Linked DNA regions of Homo sapiens. The protein of the gene in region 7 interacts with the protein of the main gene of each other region in a pairwise test. Each region holds a gene or a part of one and is shown on either strand. Other genes may lie near its edges.

Region 1 (3,500 bases), on a different chromosome or scaffold from region 7:
GTGGATGACATTAACATTTCAATCAGTAGACTGAGTAAAGCAGATGGTCCTCCCTGAGGTGGGTGGCCCTCAGCCAATCATTTGAAGGCCTAATTAGAACAACAAGGCTGATCCTCCCTCAACTAACAGGGAATTCCTCCTGCCTGACTGCCTTCTAACTGGGTTATTGGCTTTTTCTTGCTTTCGAACTTGAACTGAAACACTGCCACTTCCTGGGTCTTGAGCCTGTCAAACTTTGGAATAAAACTACACCATAGGTTCTCCCAGTTCTCAGGCCCTTAGACTCAGCCTGGAACCACACCATTGACACTTTTGGGTGTCCAAGTTGCCAACTCACCCTACAGATCTTGGGGTTTGACAGCCTCCATAATCACATGAGCCAACTCCTTATAATAAATCTGTATTTATATCTGCCTATATCTGTATCTATAGATATACACATTCTATTGGTTCTGTTTCTCTAAAAAAAGCACTTAATAGCCTCAACCCTCTCCCCATGAACTATATCTGCATAGAACCTGTCCTACTTTCACTACCACTGGGACAAAGTGACCAAGGTTTGCCTTCTTCCTCTTTCTTCTATCTATTCTTGGAGTCAAATGAGTGGGAAGAGAAGGGAAAAGCAGTAAGCCACTTAAGCTACAGGCCCTAGTCTTTTTTTTTCTTCCCACTTTCATTTCTAACCATGATTTACATCAGGATAAAACAAATAGATCAGGAACAAAGTTAGAAAACTTTGATTTGTGAATTCAAAATCCACTCAAACTCAATACATGTGCAAATATACCTCTTTGACAAGAAAGCACTCCTCACAAAAAAAAAACTCTTTTCTTTAAAAAATTATGTCCTATACTATTTAAATTCATCTTAAAATAAAAATCATATTATTCAATAAAATTTTCTTTAAAGAGCCTTATAAAAGAGTTCACACTTGAGACACAAATAGTCCTGAACATTCGTTTCTCAGCGTAACTGTAAAGTGCTCTTTGGGAAAAAAAATTCTACTTAGGTTATACTTTACTTTTAATTCTAGGGGCTCTCAACATTTCTGAGAATAAAAATTAAAGGCCAACAGCAAGACTGTAATTACTTTTTAATCGTTCTCCCTCTTCATGGACAGAAGTGACCTTTCTTATCAGCTCAAAATCCCAGACCTTAGAGAAAGATCAAAGTGATGAATTTCCAATTTTAAATGTCAAATCCAGAATATCTCCTACAGATTTAGCTACCCAGGAGAGAAAGATTTTAAAATACCTGAAATTCTTTCAATTGACTCTTGGATCGATCACGTGTAAAAATTATTTTGCCTTAACTACTTCAATGGCTTAAAGTAGATTATGTCATACCCTACTCAGTAAGGAAAACTAATGAGAATCTTTTTAAAAGGCAAAGTCCCATTTTCATAGTTGTGTGGGAGGAACATGCTACGCATTCTATTCAGATGGATCAGCAAAGGTGCAAAGTATGAATAAATGGCCTCTCTGTGTGAAAGGATTAAACAAATCACATGAGTTAATGAAAGGTTTAAAAAAAAAAAAAACCCTAGAAAAAGTTTTAAAATGCCATTTGTTAAAGAATAAATTATACAAAAGCAGCTAACATCATGACATGAGCATGTAAGCTGTCACCATGGCAAGGAGGTTGTCTTATGTAATTCTAGATGGTGGCATGTGGAACCACAAAAAAGGCAAAATTTGACTCTAAATCTCCTAGTGTGTATTGTGCTCAAGTGATGTACATAATGCCATCATGTCACCTTAGGCTTCAGAAAATACGAATTCCTGTCTGCATATGTGACTTCCTGCCACAAGAATTTAAACATAATCTATCTTTCTTATGGACGGTTCCTCTCTTAGCATTACTAAAGGTATAAATATGAGGTTAGGGATAAAAGTAATTAATACTTCTAGTTTAATTACTAGTTTATAACAATTAGCATGTTTACGTTTTCATTTAGTATTTTTATTTTTAAAATAATTGAACAAACCACAGCTTTTCAAATTTGAATTAGCAAGACAGAAAAGTAAACACATTCTGGAAAAGCTCAAAATTCCTTGTTCTTACCATTAAAGGAAATCTTAATGTTATTGAATGAAATTTGTATACTACAAGAAGGGAATAATATATTGGCTTGTTAGGCCATTCTCATGCTGCTAATAAAGATATACCCGAGACTCGGTAATTATAAAGGAAAGAGGTTTAATTGACTCACAGTTCCACATGGCTGGGGAGGCCTCACAATCATGGCGGAAGGCAAGGAGAAGCAAGTCACATCTTACATGGCAGCAGGGAAGAGAGAACTTGTGCAGGAGAACTCCTCTTTATAAAACCATCAGATCTCATGAGATTCACTATCATGAGAATAGCATGGAAAGACCCACCCTCATGATTCAATTACCTCCCACGATACGTGAGAATTGTGGGAGCTACAATTCAAGAGGAAATTTGGGTGGGGACACAACCAAACCATATCACTGGCCTTTAGAAAAATTTCCAAGAGAAGCATCAGCTAGTATCTTTCATGCTTTTAAGATGACTCCTCTTATGGCACAATCTGATGGAGAAGAACATTTGATGCAGAGCAGTCTTCCTGGATGTGCTTACCGGATAGGATTGGGAGGTGGAGGGGGAAGTGGTGGTGGAGGAGGAGGTGGTGGAGGTACTGAATTCTCAGACTGGTTCACTCGTTTCTGGAGTTCATCAACTGCACAGAGAGCAAACATTCAGAAGAGAGCTGAAATAAGCAACTAAACATTGTTTATACATGTGAAAAAAAGAACATAACCTTTCTCAAAAGTAAGTTCTTTTTATTAAGGCAAAATTAGAAATTTCAATATGAAATTACAGACCTTTTTAAACTTTTCACTATCTAGTCTATTGCTAATGCAAGAGAGGACTCCTATCCATCAATATTAAATGTTATCTTTTTGCTGTATATACAACTTTAGAAAAGAAAAAAATTAAAAACAATGGCTGAAGGGTAGGAAGGAGTAGGCTGAAGAAATATTTGTTAACAACGAAGTATATGACTCAAACACTAAGAAATTGTTAATACTTTAAAAGTGTACAGACCAAGAATTAATTTTAAAGATGACATTTAGTAATGAAATTTAATAGCTGCATACTTCTCTCCCCTGCTTAATTTCCTTCAAAAACTGCAAATACTAGAGTCTTTGATTTTAACCAGATTCAGCTTCCTAAATCTGTAACTCAGAAACTTTTTGCTCTTTTGAAGAGATTTCTGGAAATGTATCGTATTCCTTCAAGTCTTTCATGAGGAAGGCATTTTACTAAGCACCAATGATGTGAAAGTGCCTATGAATGGTGCTACAGGAGACGTAACACCTGACTTCAAAGAACTGAACTTAAGTTGATATCACAGGTGCTAATACCTATGAGATAATGGGTAAAAGGTGCTGCATACTGTTGGCACTCAGAGGTAGCTCTCCCCATCCACAGCCATTCCACTTTCCCCGACTGAGTGTACCCTCAGGGATCTG
Region 2 (3,500 bases), on a different chromosome or scaffold from region 7:
CACTGTCTAGGCTCAGTGGTAGGCTCCCCAAAGTGCCCAGGGAGGCCCAGAGTGAAAAAGAAGCTCTGTCCTTACCAGTGTCTCCACCACTACAGGTACCAGGCTGCCTAGGAAGCCAGGTGGTGCCTTTAAGATCTCCATGGAGAAACGCACAGCTCGACGCAGGATCCGACGAAGAACCAGCCTAAAGGGGTTCAGAGCCCAGACATGAATCCCCAGCGGCTCATGGTCAGCAATATGGGGAGTGGGAAGGACGAGGTCCAGTGTGTGCTCCCACCTCAAAGCTCTCCCTCTCCCCATTCCTCCTACTGGCTCAACCAGACCCACCTCTCCTGTTCCCTCCCTCCTCCACCTGAGACCCCCAGCAGCCCCTGTCCTCTCTGTAGCCCTTCCAGACTCACGGGGGACCTGACATCCCAGGGAAGATGCCATCAGAGATGCAGACACTGAGTGTGCGGATGTGGTCAGCCACCACGCGGTACGCTGTGTCTGTGCGCCCCTCGTCTGCCACCCCTACTCGGCCCAAGTAAGGGGGTGCCCTGCAGCCCTGGGAAGCAGAAGAGTCAGCCAGTGGCCCTGCCTGACCTGGCCCAGGTGGGTGCTCTTTATCGCCTCTAGAGCATCTGCCCTCAGCCCTAAAGCCAACCACATCCAGAATGGCCTTGCCAGTCCAGTCCTGGGCTGAGAAGCCTCACAGATGAGCACAAGCCAGGCCCTGCCCTCACGGGGCTCATATTTGGTGCTACAAGTGAACATATCTGTGACCATTTACTGAATTTCTACTATCAGAACTGGGTGAGTACTTGAACAACATGGCCTCGAATCCCCAAAACAGCCCATTCCAGGAGGTATTAGCATGCTTGCTTTAAAGAAGAAGAAGCTGAGGCTCAGAGGAACTCAGTGACACAAGGCTACCCAGCTCTCAAGGAGCAGATCTGAGATCTCAGCCGGGCCTGTTGGACTCCAGGTGCTCTCCACTACCTGTTCTTGCCTCTCCCATCTTTTGTGGGGGTGGGCAGGGAGGGAGAGTGTAAGCTACATACACGGAAATGCTCCAAAGCAGGGAGCTTGATTCACTTACCACCAAACCTCTCTCTTCCCCAAGCTTCTTCGTCTAACAGTCATGCCATTCACTGTGTTGCTCAAGTCAATAGCCTGGGAGCCATCTTTGAATTCTTTTTCCCCTACCCGTCATGATCCATCAGTGGTTCCTTTTGCTCCTACCTCCATGACATCTCTCAAATCAATCTACTTGTCTCTACTTCCACTGCTATTATCCGAAGCATGCCCTGTGGTCCTTGCCTGGACCGATAATAGCCTCCCAACTGATTCCTAAGTTTCTGCTCTCATCTCCCTCCAGCTCATCCTCCACACAGCAACAGGAGTAGCCTTTTAAAAGTGTACATCAGGCTGGGCGCGGTGGCTCACACCTGTAATCTCAACACTTTGGGAGGCTGAGGCGGGTGGATCACCTGAGGTCAGGAGTTTGAGACCAGCCTGGCCAATCCTGGTGAAACCCCATCTGTACTAAAAATACAAAAATTAGTCAGGTGTGTTGGCGGGTGCCTGTAATCCCAGCTACTCTGGAGGCTGAGGCACGAGAATTGCTTGAGCCCCGGAGGCAGAGGTTGCAGTGAGCCGAGATCATGCCACTGCACTCCAGCCTGGACAACAGAGCAAGCAAGACTCTGTCTCAAAAAAAAAAAAGAAGGGTTCTCAGTGGGGAGTGTGGCATGATCTGATGTACACTTTTATTTATTTATTTTTTTTGAGATGAACTCTCACTCTGTTGCCCAGGTTAGAGTGCAGTAGCACGATCTCAGCTTACTGCAACCTCCACCTCCTGGGTTCAAGAGATTCTCCTGCCTCAGCCTCCCAAGTGGCTGGGACTACAGGTGTGTGCCACCATGCCTGGCTGATTTTTCTATTTTTTTAGTAGAGACAGGATTTTGCCATGTTGGCCAGGCTGGTCTCCAACTCCTGACCTCAAGCGATCCGCCCCCCTCTGCCTCCCCAAGTGCTGGGATTACAGGAGTGAGCCACCGTGCCCAGCCCTGAGAACTCTTCTCACCACTCTGAGAATCAAGGCCCCACTTTGGACTTTGAGGCCCACAAGACTGGATTCTGCCTTCTTCTCTGTGAGACTGTTCACAAAAATGGCCCTTTCCTAGGCATATGCCACTTTAAAATGGGACTTTACAGCTGTTTCCCATCAAGGGACAGAATCCATTTCTCCATCCCCTGAATCTCTGCTGGCTTTGTGACTTGCTTTGGCCCATAGAATACAGTGGAAACAACACTGTTCTGAGCCTATGTGTCTGCTCTCTGTCTTGGAACCTTGCTGAGCTGTGATGTGGACAAGCCCAGACTAGCCAGCTAGGTGATGACAGACACATGGTCCAGTCACCCCTACTGCCCCCAAACTGACAGCCAGCCAAGCCCCAGAGGAGCTGCGGCCTCTCAGCTCACCACAGATGGATGAATGAGCTCACACAAGACCAAAGAATGAGCCAGCTAAGCCCAGCCTAAACGCTAGCTCACAGACTCAGGGGGCAGATACATGGTTGTTGGTTAAGCCACAGAGCATTAGGGTGGTTATACAGCAAAAGCCAACTGACACATGTTCCTACTATATCCCATGGGATTCTCCTTTAGCTGGCTGGCCACCTTTTAGTTTTTGGCACATGTCAAGCCCTTTCTTGCGGGGCAAGGAGGGAGGGTATAAGCTACACACATGTGGAAATGCTCCAAAGCAGGGAGCTTGATTCACCTAGCTCCAAACCTCTCTCTTCCCCAAGCTTCTTCATCTCAGTAAACAGTCATGCCATTCACTGTGTTGCTCAAGCCAATAGCCTGGGAGCCATCTTTGATTTCTCTTTCCCCTCCCCATCTAATCCATCAGTACCAAGGCCCTTGGTACCTGCTGTCCCCTCTGCCTGGAAAGAACTTCCTGTAGCTGACTCCTCCTTTGGGGCTCAGCTCAAAGGTCATCTTCTTGGTGAGCCTTCCCCAAGCACCTTATCTAAGATTCCTCTGTACCCCTCCTTCTTCCTAGTTACTTTCACCCATGTTTACTGCCTGTTCACAATCTGTAAGCTATTACCTTGTTCTTTAACACATTTATTGATTGTCTATCTCTCATGCTAGCATATAATCTCCATGATCTCTTTCCTGCTTACTGCTGTGTCTTCTGTACCAAACACAAAGGATTTAACATAAAGTAAGCACTCAACACGTATTTTCTAAATAAATGAAAGAGGCAAGGAGTTAGGAGGAACATCAGGTAATAAGTAATGAATCCTAGTGTCTTGCTTGACGTCTTGGAATTCTTGGTTGGTTATTGTCCTCAGATGCTGAGAACACTCTGAGTTCTCAACAAAGATGGAATGCAATGGGGCTGAGGGCTGTGAAGAGCAGGTTAGAGGGCTTCTGGAAGGGAAGAGGCACTCACCTGCTGTATGGCGTTGAGCAGCGGGGAAAAGAGGTCAGTGTCATAGGTG
Region 3 (3,500 bases), on a different chromosome or scaffold from region 7:
GTCTGGGGGCGGGGAGCTTCTCTCTAAGAATCTGAGGGTAGCCTGAGAGCGGTTATTGGCCTCACATTGTACTAGGCTCTTAATCTTTCTTGTGTATTAACAGATTCTTAATCTAATTCCATTGCCTGTTATTAATTCTCCATTAAGACTGTTGATTTATTGCTGAGTCACTCATTGGGTCTGCTTCATGTGCGATGAGTTTAAAATGCAGATGAAACCGGCTGACTTTTCCTGACCTAGGTGACGCTCGCTTAGCTGTGGGAAGGAGCACCGCCTTAGGGAGACTGAGGATGGCGATTTTAAAAAGCTTTTCCTCTTTAATAATTACCTGAATGCAAGTAGGTCATAGCCTTGGTCACAGAACTTGGTTCCCTGGTATCCAGGGCTCTGTGGGTGTGTCGAGGGCTATAGGGTTTGCAGACACGCCCTGTCAGGGTCAAGGCACCAATATGAGCGCTAAGTGAGAGCACTATGGGGGTGGCGCCGGGCACTGTTGTTAAATCTCAAAGGCACGAGGGCCTAAGGTCTAAGGGTTAATTTCAGGCTGCAAGAAAAGAATTGTGGGGCCGGGCGTGGTGGCTTACACCTGTAATCCCAGCACTTTGGGAGGCCGAGGCAGGCGGATCACGAGGTCAGGAAATCCAGACCACGGTGAAACCCCGTCTCTACTAAAAATACAAAAAAAAAAAAAAAAAAAAATTAGCCGGGCGAGGTGGCGGGTGCCTGTAGTCCCAGCTACTTGGGAGGCTGAGGCAGGAGAATGGCGTGAACCCGGGAGGCGGAGCTTGCAGTGAGCCGAGATCGCACCACTGCACTCCAGCCTGGGAGACAGAGCGAGACTCCGTCTCAAAGAAAAAAAAATTGTGGGAACTGCAAGCCCCTTAACCTTTCCTGACCTGATTTCCTTCTCCGAACATAGGGACAATGATTTGTGCCCTCTCATAGCCACATAGGCGTCTCCGCCACTCAGCACCTCAAGCCACAGCAGGAGCGGAGGTTGTCCCTGTGTTCATGGAAAAGGCAGCACAGGGGTTTGCCAGGCCCAGACGCGCCACCTTGTGGCCGCAATGCATATTGGCTTCAGCTGGGTCAGGAAATGGCCCCCCCCCCCAGTCTATTTACCCAGGGTGCATGTTAGGAAAACACACCCCAAATTCCTTGTATCAGACAAAATTCCTTGATTTGGAATTGTTTAACTGAGCGCACTGCAGGCTGTTTGGCAGATAGCTTCCTCCCTGGGGCAGCAAAGCCGGGAAACTAGGCGATTTCATTAACCCATTCTCCAAAAAATGTGACCAGGGTAGGTCTCATTTGAGAGTCTCGCTCTGTCACCCAAGTTGGAGTGCAGTGGCGCACATTTGACCACATTCTCTTCTTTCAGTTTTTTTCACGTGGAAAATGGGGATAATAATTCCACCTAATTCCAAGGGTTGTTGTGAGAATCTCATCAGGGTGGGCTTTTCAGCTGGGCACAGGCTAAGCCGAGGAATAGAGGAAGGCCGGTGGAAATCACTTTCTCTGGGAAGAGCTGGCTTTGTGATTCCCGACATCGTATTGACTTATTTTGGTCAAATGTCACTAATGTTCCATCCCTAAATCTCCTCATGCTATTGCCTTCACTGACTGCAAATGATCTCTGCTTTTTCATGCTTTCTTACCCGTCATCATTTTCTTTCTGTCGGCCACTAGCTAAGGAACACATACGGCGTAATCGGCAGAGTCGGACCTTTTTGGTGGAGAATGTCATAGGAGAAATCTGGTCCGAGCTGGAGGAAGGTAGCGTCCTTCAATGTCCTTTGCTCTTGCTGGATTTTCCTGTGCTGCTCGTGAAAAGCCATTCCCATTTGTCCCTTTTGCACTTTTGGAAAATGTTCAAACTCAGTGGGTTCTAAAGACCACTCATGCAGGGAGAGCTCTTTTGGGAGCTGTAATTTTGCATGTTGTAAAACCAGGTAGGGATTGGAATTGATCAGTTCCAGAGTAAGTCTTTGGTGAAACGCAGATGATTTTAGGGCACTCACTATTCACGTGGCAGGAAACTGCCCACTAAGTACGTGCCAGGTATGCAGCAATGTGTGAATCTTAGATTCACTCACCTGGGTTCTCCATCGTCCATGTCTAACCATCCTCCTGGGCAGATTGCATTCTCTTTGGTCATGGTTAACTCCTAGAGCTGCTAATTAGCAAAACCATTGTGCTAATGAGAAGTTTTGAGGGCACTTAGCTGGGTCTACCTAGTTACCACCCACAAGCTTGTTTCAGATGGGGTTGGCAAACAGTCTGTGTAAAAGATGGCTGTTTTTGTGCCAGGTGATAAGTATGTGGTTGTGGACAGTGGCGGTGGCACCGTAGACCTGACAGTCCATCAGATCCGGTTACCGGAGGGACACCTTAAGGAACTGTATAAAGCAACAGGTGAGGCCCTGCAGGGCTAATTTTCTTATTCCTGAGCCAATTCCAGGCAGTTCTGTTTTCACTTGTTTCAGATAACTCTCAGTTTTATTCTCTTGAATGCCACTAACATGTGGGATCGTAGGCGGTGGAGGATACTAATGTCTGCTTGAAATTGGAAAGCAAAATGCAATTAAACATTCTTTAAAACACAAACCACCACAACTTGGGTTTTGGCCTAAAGCGAGCCTGTTTCAGATCCTGGCCAAGGGCGCTGGTTTCTGAAAATTCCGAAAGGATGAGATTGCAACTTGATGTTGCCCATGACCGTGCTAAGGTGAACTTTCTAGGGAGGCCTCACCTTGTCTTGGATCAAGATTGCCAAACCATTGGCCAAGTGCGGTGGCTCACGCCTGTAATCCCAGCACTTTGGGAGGCCAAGCAGGCAGATCACTTGAGGTCAGGAGTTGGAGACCAGCATGGCCAACATGATGAAACCCTGTCTCTACTAAAAATACAAAAATTAGCTGGGCGTGGTGGTGCACACCTGTAGCCCCAGCTACTCAGGTGGCTGAGGCAGGAGAATTGCTTGAACCCAGGAGGCAGAGGTTGCAGTGAGCAGACATTGCGCCACTGCACTCCAACTTGGGTGACAGAGCGAGACTCTCAAAAAAAGATTGCTAAACCAAAGAACATGCTGTTTCCCTTTTGGGAGGTTGGAGGGGAAAGGATAATAAGTAATTAGAGGATCACACAGGGACTAGACCAGGCCTGCTGATTTTCCAGCCCCCGCCCTTGGATGTCTTGGATTGGAATACCATAATGGTCCTAGTTAGATAAAATTATTGATTTTTTAAAAAATGTAATTGATTTAAAATAGATTGTTGGCTGGGAGTGGTGGCTCATGCCTGTAATCCCAGAACTTTGAGAGGCCAAGGCAGGTGGATCACCTGAGGTCAGGAGTTTGAGACCAGCCTGGCCAACATGGCAAAATCCCATCTCTACTAAAAATACAAAAATTAGCCGGGCATGGTGGTGCGTGCCTGTATCTCAGCTACTCGGGAGGCTGAAGCAGGAGAATCACTTCAACCCAGGAGGCGGAGATTGCA
Region 4 (3,996 bases), on a different chromosome or scaffold from region 7:
CAAAGTGCCCAAACTTCACAGGGGGAAGAACCTCTCCACAAATCTCATGACACAGGTGAACTGACCTCGCTTCTCAATCACAGCCCACAATTGTTAGAGAAAGCATTAAAAAGGGCTGGGCGCGGTGGCTCACGCCTGTAATCCCAGCACTTTGGGAGGCCAAGGTGGGCGGATCACGAGGTCAGGAGATCGAGACCATCCTTGGCTAACACGGTGAAACAAACCCCATCTCTACTAAAAAATACAAAAAATTAGCCGGGCGTGGTGGCGGGCGCCTGTAGTCCCAGCTACTCGGGAGGCTGAGGCAGGAGAATGGCGTGAACCCGGGAGGCGGAGCTTGCAGTGAGCTGAGATCGCGCCATTGCACTCCAGCCTGGGCGACAGAGCCAGACTCAGTCTCCAAAAAAAAGAAGAAAAGAGAAAGCATTAAAAAAATACCCTCAGCCCCCTGTGATGGGTGGCTACTCCTAGAATTTGGATCCAGGGTGTTTGCGGCTTGGCTTTTTACATATCGAAGAGGAAAGAGATGGCTGAGAACATCCGCCTGGGTGGTCCCGCCATTCCGCCTGCTGAGTATTCAGGGACTCCCGCTGTAGAAAGGATTGGGGGACAACCTGACCGAATTCGCATTTGCTCAGGCGTTTCCCGTAGCGCTCTGCTGAACTGGGGTTAGTCTTTTGCTGCCAGTCAGAAAGTGTCTGGGCCCAACTAGGGAAACCACGGGATAATGGGCTGATGGGGAGGAGGACCAGCATGGAGGATGTGCCACAGCCCCTCCAGAAGGTAGCACTGGCGTGCCTGACAGGTGACAGACGGAGCAGAGGCAAGGGCGCAGCTGCACGAAGGAAAACGCCCACATAGGGGGTGAGCGCGCCCACGCGTGCTCAGCCTTGTCGGAGCGCAGCCCGGGCGCCGGGCTCCCAGTGCAGGTGTGGCCAGCGGAGGTCAAGAACTGCGTGGAACAACCCCAAGTGGGGGAAAACACACGCCAGCCGCCCCCGGGGTCAGGAGGTGGGGCAAGCAGCGGCGCCTCACCCAGCCTCCCGCTCCGGGTCCTGCCGGATGGCGGCAGCTCTCCGGGCCAGCCCCCTTCTCTCCGCGGCTCCTCCGCAGACACCCGGCGCGGAAGAAGGAGGGGCGGAGACCTGGCCGGCGCGCGTCTGATGATCCGGACCCCGGTGCGACTGGAGCGCCTCAGTCACTGTCTCCCCGCCCCACGGTTCCGAGTAAGGACCGGAGCTCCACTCCGGGGGTGGAGCGCGGGCTCCCCGCAGGGAAAGGTGCGCAGCGTTCCCGACCCCAAAACGAGCGGCGCTTGGGAGCGTGCGTGCCTCCCCGAGAGCCCCGGGCGCCACCCGTGGGCTGGACGAGGTGGGCGCTGGGGCGTGGGGCCGGCGGCGCAGAGAAGCCACGGCCACCTGCCGCCTCCCCTGCACCTGGCGGAGCATCCCTCACTCTACAGTCCCTGGAGGCGGCGCCGGAAACCTGGCGGCCGGGACCGCGATTCTGGAAGCCCCGGAGCTCGCCCGGCCGGAGGAGCCGGGGCGCGGTTCCGGCGAGATTGGCGACTTGCTTCCTTTTGCAGAACGGCCGCTCCTCTCTCGGTCCAGCTGCGACGCTGGGAAAGCGCCAGACTTGGTCTGTCACGGGAGCCCCCGCGGGGCGTGGCGAGGGAGAGCTGGCCTAGGCTGCGAGGGACTCTCGTTTCTTGCCTGGAGAGCCAGGAAGAGGGCGAGGGCAGAGCATCCTTGGGCGGAGATGCCTTTAAAAAATCATCCACCGCAGCGGTAGAAACAGTTTTGTTTGGCTTTATTTATACGGAATGGTTTTTCAGTGAAATGCTGTCTTGCTTAAAAGAAGAGATGCCTCCCCAGGAGCTCACCCGGCGACTGGCCACAGTGATCACTCATGTCGGTAAACGAAGCTTTAATTTTTCCTGCGTTTTATTAATGGCGGGTGAGGATGGTCTCTGGGCTTCATCTGGCTCCTGGCCTCACCCGCTGCCCCGGGGCAGCGCGCTTCCTGGGGGGTTGCCCGGCATCTGGGCCTCGCTGCTCTGGGTCCTGCCTGCGGTGCCCAGCGGGGGGCATCCCTGGGGCGCGCCGCTGGTGGGGGTCGGGGGGCCGAGGCTGGTGCCTTCACCAGGTGGTTGCCGAGTCCGTTGAGCTCCAAACCGAGGGCTGCTGGGCTGTTACCATCCGTTAGCTGCTTCTGACGGGAGTAGGGTGGGTGGGAAGTTATGTTCTGGTTTTGGGGATAGTGAGAAAGGAGAGGGCATAAGAGGAACGAATGCCAGTGCTTTTCAGCAGAAATGATTGCCACGCCACTGAAGGCTTGTTTATAAGAAAGTGCAGGGAGAGGCAGGTTACATGGGAGCGCCCCTGCGCAGCTCGGCCGCTAGGCCTGTTTTACTGTGCTGCCTGGAGGGTTAAGCACACCCCTGATGATCCCCGCGAGAAATCTCTGCAAGCCAAGGAGACTGAGCAATTTTAATCTTCTTCCCTGAGTTGAAAAGAGGAGCAAAACATGCATTGCTTGCTCCTGAAATAAGGGTTGTGATGGAACGTCAGGCCCCACAGACTAAGTAAGGGCAAGAGGACATTGAGACAGTTCCCAGTCAGTTTTTTCTTAGCACTTTCTTCCCCTTGGCCTTCCCTGGACCTCCCTCAGTAAAGACACACATTCAGGTTCAGAACCTCTGGATGTGGGCAACTGGAATTATCGGGATCATTTTCTCTGTTGCTGACTGTGCTTGGAGGTCCTCCCATGAATGCAAATCAGCTTTTATTGATAAAGCCAGGAACTATTTGCCTTGGTTTTCTACACATTTGTGAAAGCTGCTTTCTTGGTACTTGCATGTTAAATGTTGCCTCAATTAGTCCAACGTGTTTGCTGTAATAATCGTGCACATCTCAAATGATACACTTGTGAGGACATACTTTGTAAAGATGATTTATATGGGAAGGCCCAGTTTTGATAATTCAAGTTTAGAAAAAAGTTTCTGGTGCCAATTGTGGGCACTGAACTTTTACGACAAAAGATCAGTAGGATCCTACCAGGTAAGGTTGAATGTGAAATATTGCTGAAGGCAGTGTGAAATAAGAGGAAAAAGAACTTGTAATGAAACAGAATTCGGAATCTGCAATATGATGAAAGTTGAAATGATTGTGCTAAAACCCAGCACAGGCATGAAGTTGTGGTATAGAGAAAGAGCAGTGGACTCGGGGTGTGACCGTCTGGATTTGAATCTTTCCCTGGACAAGTCATTCGACCTCAGGTTGAAAAATAGGAATTTTAATAGTACTTTCCCACTCAGCTCAAAGGCTACTTGTGAAGATAAGTAAGATAATTTGGGTAGAAATACTGTGTACACTGTGATTATACAGACATTTCAGTTATTAGACATATCCCTGGTCCCTCTGTCACGCCACTAAAGATCTTTGGTGGGTTACTGGGCCTCTCTCAGGGCGAAGCCTCCCATCTGTTAAACGAGGGGTTGACCTGGATGATTTTAAAGGTCCCTCCTATTTCTCTGGAGCAGGCTCTTCTTGAAAATCTGGCAGGCAGTATTCCTTGACTAACACTTAGCTGCCTGTGGCGCCCAGGCTATGGTATTTTCTTGCCTACCTTGCTCCCTCCCTCCTTCTATAGACAGCTCCATGCAGGATACACATAGGAATTTGTTGTAGTTTCTCCTTTCAACCTCTAATGACCCTTGGCTTTTGTGTGCTTTGCAAGATTCTGTCTCCTCATACTTAATCTAATAAAACCTGTGAAATGGGTGGGGTACTCATTACTACCCCTATTTTACAAATGAAGGAATTGACTCAGAGAGGATCATCTTTTTTGTTTTTTTTTTTGAGATGGAGTTTCGCTCTTGTTGCCCAGGCTGGAGTGCAATGGTGTGATCTCGACTCACTGCAACCTCCGCCTCCCGGGTTCAAGCGATTCTCCTACCTCAGCCTCCCGAGTAGCTGGGATTACAGGCATGTGCCA
Region 5 (3,500 bases), on a different chromosome or scaffold from region 7:
ATGACCTTTGCCTTCACAATCCAAGATGGAGAAAAGACAAGGAAACACTGCCCATCCCCACCCTACCTTAACGCTCCTTCCCCCATACCACCCACAGCACCTCTGTGTACAGCCAACTGACCAGGGAAATGTCATCTTTTAGCTGGGCAGCAATGTGCCCAGTCAAAAATCTGAGTTCTTATTACTAAGGAAAAGAGAGAGAACAGATATTGTGAGCCTTGAAGTCTCTCCCACAGTATTCTTGGCCTGTTTGTTTTTCTGTTGTGTAGGTTGAGCATCTCAAATTGGAAAATCCAAATCCAAAACTTTCTGAGTGCCAACATTATTTCTTTTTTTGAGACAGGGTCTTGCTCAGTCACCCAGGCTGGAGTGCAGTGGCACAATCTCGGCTCACTGCAACCTCCACCTCCTAGGTTCAAGCGATTCTCTTGCCTCAGCCTCCTGAGTAGCTGGGATTACAGGCGCCCGCCATCACACCTGGCTAATTTTTGTATTTTTAGTAGAGACAAGATTTCACCATGTTGGCCAGGCTGGTCTCGATCTCTTGACCTCATGGTCCACCCGCCTCGGCCTCCCAAAGTGCTGGGATTACAGGCGTGAGCCACCGCGCCCGGCCCAACATTATTTCACATTTTGGATTTCCAGATTTGCAATGCTCAACCAGTAAGTATAAACGCAAATATTCCAAAATCTGAAACACTTCTAGTCCCAAGCATTTTGGATAAGGGATATTCAACCTGCCACCACGCCTGGCTAATTTTTGCATTTTTAGTAGAGACAGTGTTTTGCCATGTTGGCCAGGCTGGTCTTGAACTACAGACCTCAAGTGATCCACCTGCCTTGGCCTCCTAAAATGCTGGTATTACAGGCATGAGCCACCACACTCAACCGATACTAGTTCTTTGGTTTCAAGACCACAATAATGTGCCTTGGGAAATTGGTTTGTTGACCAGTCTATTTATTTATTCTCCCTCCTTACTGTTCCTGTCTTAGCTTTGCTTTCCCTCAAGGTGAGGACTGAGTTTGGGGGATGATGATATTTCCTCATCATTTCTTTCCCTCTGTTCTTGGAAGATCATGACACAGATGAAGGAGTCAGAGCAAGAGCTTCATGAAGGAGCCAAGACCCTGGAGTGCACCATGCGTGGTGTCCTACGGGAACAGTACCTGCAGAAGTACATCTCACCCCAGCACTGGGAAAGTCTCATGAATGGACCAGTGCAGGTAGGGGTCATCCTGGGGGACACAAATATGTCTCTGGCCTCAGTACTTTGAGGTAGCCTCCAGGAGAAGCATCAGTCCAAAACTTTACCTGTTTGATAATCTGATGCTGCCACAATGTGTAAAGTTCCCTTTTGTGATGAGAGGCAGCTGAATATGCTGGTCAGGAACAAAACTCGAACCAGCCTGTTGGGTTTTAGTCTGAGCTTGGCTCTGGACAAGTTACTTAATTTTCTGTGGCTGTTTCCCCTTTTATAAAATGGGGATAATAATAAGCATTAAGTTGAACCATATGAAATTGCCAACATCTGTAATATTGATTTGCAAAAAAGGCAATTTCTTACAGATCTTTGTTCTTACAGGATTGTTATTTAGATGAGCAAGGTGATATTTGTAAACTTATTAATTTAGTAACTGTACTATAAGTGTTTGTTAAATGAAATGAAGAAAATCATAACCAGAGGCAAACTAGCACAGATAGAGAACTTGGGAGTTGATAGATATAGTCATGCAGACTGACTGTGTGACTTGGGTTCATGTGATCCTCAGCAATCAAACATGGATAATAATAATGCCTACCTTCAAAAGATATGGTAAGAAATAACTGAGACAGTCTCTGTAAAGTGGCAGGCTAGGAACCCAGTGAAATGGTAGCTTTGTTACCATTAGGTTGCTGATTTACAGGATTACAAACCAAAAGCTTACAGAGGTCATTCAGGTCTTACAAATAAGTGAAGCAATCTAGATTTGAAATATTAAGAAGCGGAGAGGACTGTGGCAAACTAGAACAGATGTGGTAGCAACCCAGCTCCAGCCATTTGTTGCCATTCAGTAATAAACAGTCATTGCTGCCATAGCTCCTGATTTTGTCAAAATAGGCTGGAAAATTTTTTTAATTCTTTTTTTTTTTTCTTCTTTTTTTTTTTTTTGAGACAGAGTTCTCACTCTCTCACCCCAGGCTGCAGTGCAATGGCGCGATCTTGGCTTACTACAACCTCCGCCTCCCGGGTTCAAGCGATTCTCTTACCTTGGCCTCTTGAGTAGCTAGGATTACAGGCACCTGCCATCATGCCTGGCTAATTTTTGTAGAGACAGGGTTTCACCACATTCGCCAGGCTGGTCTTGAACTCCTGACCTCAGGTGACCCGCCCACCTCGGCTCTCCAAAGTGCTGGGATTATAGGCATGAGCCACCGTGCCCAGCCCTTTGATTTTTAAAATTCTATACAAGTCATGTTAAATGTTCCAGTTGCCCAAGGAGATGCCAGTTCACAGCCTCTGAACTTTTTTTTTTTTTAACAATATGATGTTTCTTTTTTAATTTTTTTTTTAACTTTTAAGTTCAGGGGTACGTGTGCAGGTTTGTTACGTAGGTAAACTTGTGTCATGAGGCCAAGCGCGCAGTGGCTCACGCCTGTAATCCCAGCACTTTGGGAGGCCGAGGCAGGCGGATCACGAGGTCAGGAGATTGAGACCATCCTGGCTAACACGCTGAAACCCCGTCTCTACTAAAAAAATAAAAAAATTAGCCGGGCATGGTGGCGGGCGCCTGTAGTCCCAGCTACTCAGGAGGCTGAGGCAGGAGAATGGTGTGAACCTGGGAGGCAGAGCTTGCAGTGAGCCGAGATCGTGCCACTGCACTCCAGCCTGGGCGACAGAGCAAGACTGTCTCAAAAAAAAAAAAAAAAACTTGTGTCATGGCGGTTTGTTGTACATCACCTAGATATTAAGCCTAGTACTCATCAGTTATTTTTCCTGCTCCTCTCCCTCCTCCCATCCTCCACCCTTCAATAGGCCCCAGTGTGTTGATCCCCTCTATGTGACCATGTGTTCTCATCATTTAACTTATAAGTGAGAACATGCAGTATTTGGTTTTCTGTTCTTGTGTTAGTTTGCTAAAGATAATGCCCTCAAACTCCATTCAGGTCCTCGCAAAGGACATGATCTCATTCTTTTTTATGGCTGCATAGTATTCCATGGTATATATGTACCACGTTTTCTTTATCCAGTCCTTCATTGATGCGCATTTAGGTTGATTAGATGTCTTTGCTGTTGTGAATAGTACAGCCTATAAACTTTAAGGGAATTACTTTTGATTCTTTTTTCTTTTGAGATAGGGTCTTGAGCCCAGGCTGGAGGGCAGTGGCATAATCATAGCTCACTGCAGCCTCGGCCTCCTGGGCTCAAGCAGTCCTCCCACCTCAGCCTCCTGGGTAACTGGGATTATATGTGCATGCCATCACACCCAGCTTTTTTGAGACAGAATCTTGCTTTTGTCAC
Region 6 (3,500 bases), on a different chromosome or scaffold from region 7:
GCTGAGGCAGGAGAATGGCGTGAACCTGGGAGGTGGAGCTTGCAGTGAGCCAAGACTGCACTACTGCACTCTGGCCTGGGGGACACAGTGAGACTCTGTCTCAAAAAAAAAAAAAAAAAAAAAGAGAGTGAAAGAAAAAAACAACCCCATCAAAAAGTGGGCAAAGGATATGAACAGACATTTCTCAAAAGAAGACATTTGTGCAGCCAACAGACACATGAAAAAATTTTCATCATCCTGCTCATCAGAGAAATGCAAATCAAAACCACATAAGATACCATCTCACACCAGTTAGAACGGCGATCATTAAAAAGTCAGGAAACAACAGATGCTGGAGAGGATGTGGAGAAATAGGAATGCTTTTACACTGTTGGTGGGAGTGTAAATTAGTTCAACTATTGTGGAAGACTTGGTGGGAGTGTAAATTAGTTCAACTATTGTGGAAGACAGTGTGGTGATTCCTTAAGGATCTAGAACTAGAAATACCATTTGACCCAGCGATCCCATTACTGGGCATATACCCAAAGGATTATAAATCATTCTACGATAAAGACACACGCACACGTATGTTTATTGCAGCACTATTCACAATAGTAAAGACTTGGAACCAACCCAAATGTCCATCAATGATAGACTGGATTAAGAAAATGTGGCACATATATACCAGGGAATACTATGCAGCCATAAAAAAGGATGAGTTCATGTCCTTTGCAGGGACATGGATGAAGCTGGAAACCATCATTCTAAGCAAACTATCACAAGGACAGAAAACCAAACACCACATGTTCTGACTCATAGGTGGGAGTTGAACAATGAGAACACATGGACACAGGGCGGGGAACATCACATACCTGGGCTGGTCAGGGGGTGGGGGGCTGGGGGAGGGATAGCATTAGGAAAAATACCTAAAGTAAATGACGAGTTGATGGGTGCAGCAAACCAACATGGCACATGTATACCTATGTAACAAACCTGTACATTGTGCACATGTACCCTAGAATTTAAAGTATAATTTTAAAAAAAAAAGAAAGAAAAGAAAAAACAGTTGTCTCATCACTACAGGAATTCTCTGTAACTCTCCACTTGGGAACTAAACAATAAGGTGCTTATCACCTTATCACCCTTGGTTTGTCAAAACAAAACAAAAAGTATTCTTAACACCTCTAAGAATACACTAATATCCACATTAAAGCAGAATTTATTTTCTTTCAAGTATGCAAATTTGACCCTCAAAATAACCAAAAGGGTTTATGACTCTGCAAGTTTATATATGTGATGAAAATAAAAATAATGAGGTCAGAATTTTTAATTATTTCATGCTTATTTAAGGATGAGAGTTTTCCTCTTTTAAAATTTGATTCTCACAGAATCAAACTGAAAAATATACAATTTGATATACAACTGCTAAAACAAAATAAATGACCAAATTCCACCCCATACAATAAACTCACTACTTATTTGAGCATAATTATGTTCAACATTTAGAAATGTTCATTACTAAAAGACACAAGATGAAAATCAATTGTTCTACCTTATTAAAAGAATCTAAACATTTGTTTTTTGTATTACTATAACCTTTTCCTTTTTACCCTTAAACAACCAATATCAAGTTTCATCTCTACTGTTATTATCCCTATAAAATGTATAATTTTACCTAATACCATGTGTTGTTAAGATCTGTCAGCATTAGGCATTAAATTTTAGAAGAAATTATAGTCCACAGCAGCCTTTAAAAAGTAAAAATTAAGTAATTTTTCACAGCTTTTTATATGTGCCTATTTCTTTGGAAAGCTAGTTTTTAAACAAAGTTAGCATGATTTATTCTGGATTATCCCCAGGTCAAGTATCCTAATACTAAAATGAGCAAAAGGAAGAGATGGGTAGAAATATGTTATCATCCAAAACCATAAATCTATAAATAATCACAAATCAATGCATTTTTAGAGATTCTGGAATAGGGATGGTAAATAAATTTCATCTTAAAGACCAACTCCAAGCAAATGATAGTGGCTGTCTAAAGTACTCTGTTAAGAAAGTTTTTAAAACTAAGTCTAGCAGACACCATTTCCCATCTATCAGAATGCTAGATGTAGCATAGAAGACTTTATTGTTACTAGTTTAGATTCTTAATTCTGGGCTAAGAGCATTTGATCAAATCACATACAAACCAAATGATTTTGAACAAGTCACTTAACTCTCACAATCTCACTTTCTTCCTCTAAAAAATAAGAATCTTAACTATATCAAAAGTTTACCAAAATAATAAAATGTTAAAATGAAATAAATATATAAAAATGCTTTAAAAAGTATAAATCATACAAGTTATTATTATTGGGGTTTATGCTTCTTAAATATACTCAGAATTCTGATAAGTTGTTCTTACCAAGTTAGCAGCACTCACATTTGAAATATCTGAAGGGTCCATTTCATTTTCTATCCTTGCTTTCTCTGCTGGAAATTTTTCTTCATTTACTTGTAAAGGAGGTGTACCAGCTTGCAGCATAACTGAAACACACTCTGTATCAATGTGGACAGCAGATATTTCAGAAGTTCGAACATAATTGTCTCGAATACTGCCAGAATTCTTCACATCATCCAATGTACTCACTGTGAACTAACAAAACGTAGAGAATGAATCAGAGATAATTAAAAAATACCAACTATTCCACTTTAGAAGAAGAGATGATTTTGCTTAACCTATTAACTATGAAGAAGAAGAGGTACTTGACTGGATGACAGAAAATTTACTCATCTTTTTTGTATGTTTCAAGTGTAACAAAAGGACAGGGACCATTAAGCACAAATTTTACTTGCATGCCTACTATGTACTGGGCACTATCCAAAGTTTTCTAAGAAATTAAGCAATTTATATTGTAATTTTCTTGTAGTAGGCCAATTTGTGATGAGTATTTTGTATCCTTCGCAAATGAAATCTAGTCACAAGTATGAGGCATTCATTCACTGTATTATACTCATACAACCAAAAGTATTTACATGGTCTTTTGCAAAGACTGTCTAATATCAAATGAGGACATTCAGTACTTTTGAAAAAATCCTGAAACCAATTTTTACAACAATATATTTGGAGGGCATTTTACACAAAAATATAAAACTTATTCTCTTCAGATAATATTAACATGATCTCAAAGTATCTTTGTTAAAAATTCATATGGTACATGAACCCAATTCTCCGATCTGAAAGAGAAAAGCATGACCTAAGGGTGAAGATTGAAAGCATGTAGTGTCTCATTATGACATTCATACACTTTAGATTTAGATATCTTCCCTATTGTCCTTTAGGAATATTTAATAACAAACCAACAGAAATGTAAATACAATATAAAAAGCAAACAGTGGCTTAGGCTAAATACATACCCATTTTTTAAAAACCTTCCAATTTAGCAGAGTCAAGCCTTTATTTTTACTTTGGACAGAGAAGAGAAACAATAGTACTGTGTTTTCCAATGATACTCTAAGTCAAAGAACTAAAATCTAAAATT
Region 7 (3,464 bases):
CAATATAGAAGCCAAGGCCTTAAGAGGCTAACTTAACCCACAGAACCAGTCACACAGCCAGCCATATGCTTTATTTCCCTAACTAAATAATGAAGGACTCCAAAACAGCTCATGCCTTACACGTCTCTGCATCCCCAGCTGTGCTTGGCATTCAGGGCCCCAGTAAAGAAACAGCTATTGAAAGAAGAAACAATGTTTTACTCATGTTTGATCCCTGCTCCGCAGTGCTATAATGCAAATGTTTCAAAGATGTTTTAGTCATAAATGAAAGTACTAATGGGCACTGAGATTTAGAAAGCAAATCCACATAAGATAACCTAAAGCTAGTTACAGAAGACTTGACTATCAGCCCCTAACCTGAGTTCCAGGGATCCAAATATGAATAAAATGTTGCCTCTGTCCTTCAAGAACAAGAAAAAATATTATTTTTTCCATACGAGCACAAGGTTTTTTCTCTCATTAATCAACAGTAGAATCAGATATAGAAAGAAACACTAGAGTTTTTTATTAGAAAGTTTATTGCATTAATCTATAAACTCATTTGGTGATATAAATGACAATGTAGGCTAAGAACGATGAAAGTTTATCATCTTTGGAAAATAGAGATATTTCAACACTGAAAGCATTTTTTGTTTGTTTGCCACAACCAAGTAAACCCTAATGTATTTTGATTTTTCTTTTTAAAAATATAGATTGCAATTCAGTCATATCAAAATGAAGCCTAGACCAAATACTGAACTAGCATAAGCAGACCCAGTGTTAGGACATCAATATTAACAGGACTCTAAACGGGCAGTTTGCTGTACATCTTTAGTTAATAAACAAGCAAACATCCATACCACGTAATTCACACTTGCATATGCATGTACACTTTCATGATGTGAAGCCTTTAAGACCAAAATCTCTCTTAAACATTCAGCTTGAATAATAAAGACATGTTGCCTAGAGATAGAAAATTCATTATTTTAAAAAATATAACCTTAAAACTTGATTTTTTATGATTTTATTTTAAGCATAAAGTGGACTACTAATATTGACATCAATTATAAATGATATTGTGGTACCCTTGTTTAACTTTTGCAATATTTACCATTTAAAAATCTCAATAATTGACAGCTACTGTGGCTCTTTGGGGGTCAAGATGACCACACTTTCATAAAGTTGTTTGCATTTCTCAGAACACACAGTCATTATGCTGATGGATTTGGTTCAGTCAGGTTATAACTGTCCTATTATAAAGTTCTATGGTTGGTTTTCCTGAAATTGGTGAATATAAATTCCATAAAGATAATGCTAAACATATTAAACTCTCTGTTAACATTACTACTGTATCATAGGACAGCAATTAATGTCAAACACTGTAAATAATTGTAAAATGTTCCTCACTATCATATAATTAACCTCAAATAACATATTTTCCTTATTAAAGCAAACATGAGTTATCATGTGGGCAAGTTCTGATGTACTTATATATAAATACAAATAACTTATAAATTTTCTGATACATCAACTTCTAAGGAAGGAATAATAGTTTGGCTAACAATACTATATGAATGGCATTTGCTAAGTATCTCTAAACTCCTTTACTGCTTTGACCACCATGGGATACAGAAAGGAAATTAGTTATAGGGTCCAAAATTAACATGGGTTCAAAGTTCATGAGAATAGATTCACTTGGTATGAAGAGTGACATCAATGTCAAATTAAATTCGATACATCTGGAAAAGTTCCTAAAGTTTGTAATTTCAGAGGGAAAATTTTGCCAAGATTCTTTTGTTTTCTCTTTAATTCTCATTCTAACAAAAGTATTCCTTTCTTTACCCAAATTGATATCAAAATATTTAGAAAATTTTGCCTTCTCAACAAGACCTCTCCAAATGTAACACGTAGTTTTACAACATCCAAATTGCTATGTGTGTCCTGATGTTTGAAAAGTCCTGAGTAAGCTCTAATAAGAATTGCCTCAGGTACAAATGTCATTTCAGGACATCAGCTAACTGGAGTGATTTACTTGTCAAAAAGAGCACACAGGAAGGGATGGCAGTGGCCCCTTGGAGTCCACATCTATTGTCCAGATTTTCTTTTTTAAGTTGCTGTTGCCTTTGTACAGCAAGCTTTCAATTTATTAATAGTGGAATAAGAAAAGAAACAGTTGTTTTTTTGACCTAGCTCTAGAGAACAATGGGGAAATTCAAATTTACCATGCAGCTCTGAAGAGATGATCTTTAAAAGGGAGAAAATGTCTTATTTCTTCTCACCAAAAAGGACCCCGATGGCTATTGACTCACACATGTCTCAATTAGATGCCTATCACCTAGAGTTGGGAGCCAGCCAGTGGTTAACTATTGGAATAAATCAATTGTTTCTAAGGCCTGTTCCAGGTCATTCCTTATTTCCTTGAATTGACTTTGGAGTTCCTCAAAATGAACAGCCACCAGTGCAGTGAGTGTTCTAAGTGTGTCTGCTGTATTATCCATCTGACCAAACCACCATCATACGTGCCGATGTGTGACATGAAATAACTGGATATTCCAACTCGATACCTGGCAGGGATAATCACTTATGTGCACTACTAGCAGAAGGGTTGCACATACGTATTTGTTAACTGACTCACTGAGACAGAATGCCATATAGGATTTCATGTCTTTAAAAGATTGAAGACCACTGTTTCTCTTATAAAGTTGTTTCCTTATTCAGTTTTTCAGCCCCTTTGCTTGGTCAAGTAGATCAACAAAAGGGAAACTGGCTTTCCTGCATTGTGTCAGCATTCTCATATTGCAAGATAAGTCTGGTTTGCCTGGAACAGTCCAGATTTAAGTTCATTACAAGATAATTATTAATAATGCCCTCCATTTACTCTCAAGAGTGTCCCAGTTTGGATGGTCAATTCTATGATCACCATAATGAGAGTTTTTTTTAAGATGAGTCTGTGGTACTCATCAGTAACAACGTTTCCTTTCTGCTCCCCTTCTCCCTGGTTTAACCAAGGCTCAGCACCAACAGATCAAAAGGAACTCTATTTTGGAATATTAAAAAGCATTTCTACTTCATTTATAAGCCAATCACTTGTGGTTACTATACTATTTTAGTAACGACCAATTTTAATCAATTCAAATTATATATTTTCATCTTGTCCCTCCAAAAGAAAAAAGAACAACGCATTTTTATCAAGCAAAAGATAAGTGGCAATAATACAAGGAATAACGAACATATAATATTTTTTCATTAACAATCCAAACACTACAAAACATAGAATATGCAATTTAAAAATGGAAATACAAATTAATGAAAAGTTGGGTACATGTCACATTAGCAATGCAAAAGACCAGCTTAAGCATAGTTTCTCTAAATTGACAATTAATAAAAGGAAAGTTCCCTTTCTCAAATATGCACAAAAATATTTCAGTCACTTCTAGGGAAAGATTAATCAAAATGTTCCACTAATTCTATATTACAGCATGTAT

What was found.
Region 1: the proteins of MEGF10 (region 7) and SHTN1 interact in a two-hybrid assay, tested with the Homo sapiens proteins (one large-scale study listed by IntAct).
Region 2: the proteins of MEGF10 (region 7) and AARS2 interact in a two-hybrid assay, tested with the Homo sapiens proteins (one large-scale study listed by IntAct).
Region 3: the proteins of MEGF10 (region 7) and HSPA12A interact in a two-hybrid assay, tested with the Homo sapiens proteins (one large-scale study listed by IntAct).
Region 4: the proteins of MEGF10 (region 7) and MCF2L2 interact in a two-hybrid assay, tested with the Homo sapiens proteins (one large-scale study listed by IntAct).
Region 5: the proteins of MEGF10 (region 7) and ZNFX1 interact in a two-hybrid assay, tested with the Homo sapiens proteins (one large-scale study listed by IntAct).
Region 6: the proteins of MEGF10 (region 7) and SCAPER interact in a two-hybrid assay, tested with the Homo sapiens proteins (one large-scale study listed by IntAct).

What each region holds. Positions count from the first base shown.
Region 1 is NC_000010.11:116,925,188-116,928,687, forward strand, and holds part of SHTN1 (shootin-1), read right to left. Parts: intron 2,705-3,500; coding exon 2,605-2,704; intron 1-2,604. UniProt on the Homo sapiens protein: Involved in the generation of internal asymmetric signals required for neuronal polarization and neurite outgrowth.
Region 2 is NC_000006.12:44,306,848-44,310,347, forward strand, and holds part of AARS2 (alanine--tRNA ligase, mitochondrial), read right to left. Parts: coding exon 3,452-3,500; intron 595-3,451; exon of another isoform or gene 548-594; coding exon 402-547; exon of another isoform or gene 387-401; intron 229-386; exon of another isoform or gene 185-228; coding exon 76-184; intron 1-75. UniProt on the Homo sapiens protein: Catalyzes the attachment of alanine to tRNA(Ala) in a two-step reaction: alanine is first activated by ATP to form Ala-AMP and then transferred to the acceptor end of tRNA(Ala). Also edits incorrectly charged tRNA(Ala) via its editing domain.
Region 3 is NC_000010.11:116,680,067-116,683,566, reverse strand, and holds part of HSPA12A (heat shock 70 kDa protein 12A), read left to right. Parts: intron 1-1,689; coding exon 1,690-1,776; intron 1,777-2,310; coding exon 2,311-2,415; intron 2,416-3,500. UniProt on the Homo sapiens protein: Adapter protein for SORL1, but not SORT1. Delays SORL1 internalization and affects SORL1 subcellular localization.
Region 4 is NC_000003.12:183,425,820-183,429,815, reverse strand, and holds the start of MCF2L2 (probable guanine nucleotide exchange factor MCF2L2), read left to right. Parts: upstream 1-1,196; 5' UTR 1,197-1,838; coding exon 1,839-1,914; intron 1,915-3,996. UniProt on the Homo sapiens protein: Probably functions as a guanine nucleotide exchange factor.
Region 5 is NC_000020.11:49,261,058-49,264,557, reverse strand, and holds part of ZNFX1 (NFX1-type zinc finger-containing protein 1), read left to right. Parts: intron 1-1,074; coding exon 1,075-1,224; intron 1,225-3,500.
Region 6 is NC_000015.10:76,769,341-76,772,840, forward strand, and holds part of SCAPER (S phase cyclin A-associated protein in the endoplasmic reticulum), read right to left. Parts: intron 2,615-3,500; coding exon 2,402-2,614; coding exon of another isoform or gene 2,384-2,401; intron 1-2,383. UniProt on the Homo sapiens protein: CCNA2/CDK2 regulatory protein that transiently maintains CCNA2 in the cytoplasm.
Region 7 is NC_000005.10:127,458,259-127,461,722, reverse strand, and holds the end of MEGF10 (multiple epidermal growth factor-like domains protein 10 isoform a precursor), read right to left. Parts: 3' UTR 501-3,464; downstream 1-500. UniProt on the Homo sapiens protein: Membrane receptor involved in phagocytosis by macrophages and astrocytes of apoptotic cells. Receptor for C1q, an eat-me signal, that binds phosphatidylserine expressed on the surface of apoptotic cells. Cooperates with ABCA1 within the process of engulfment.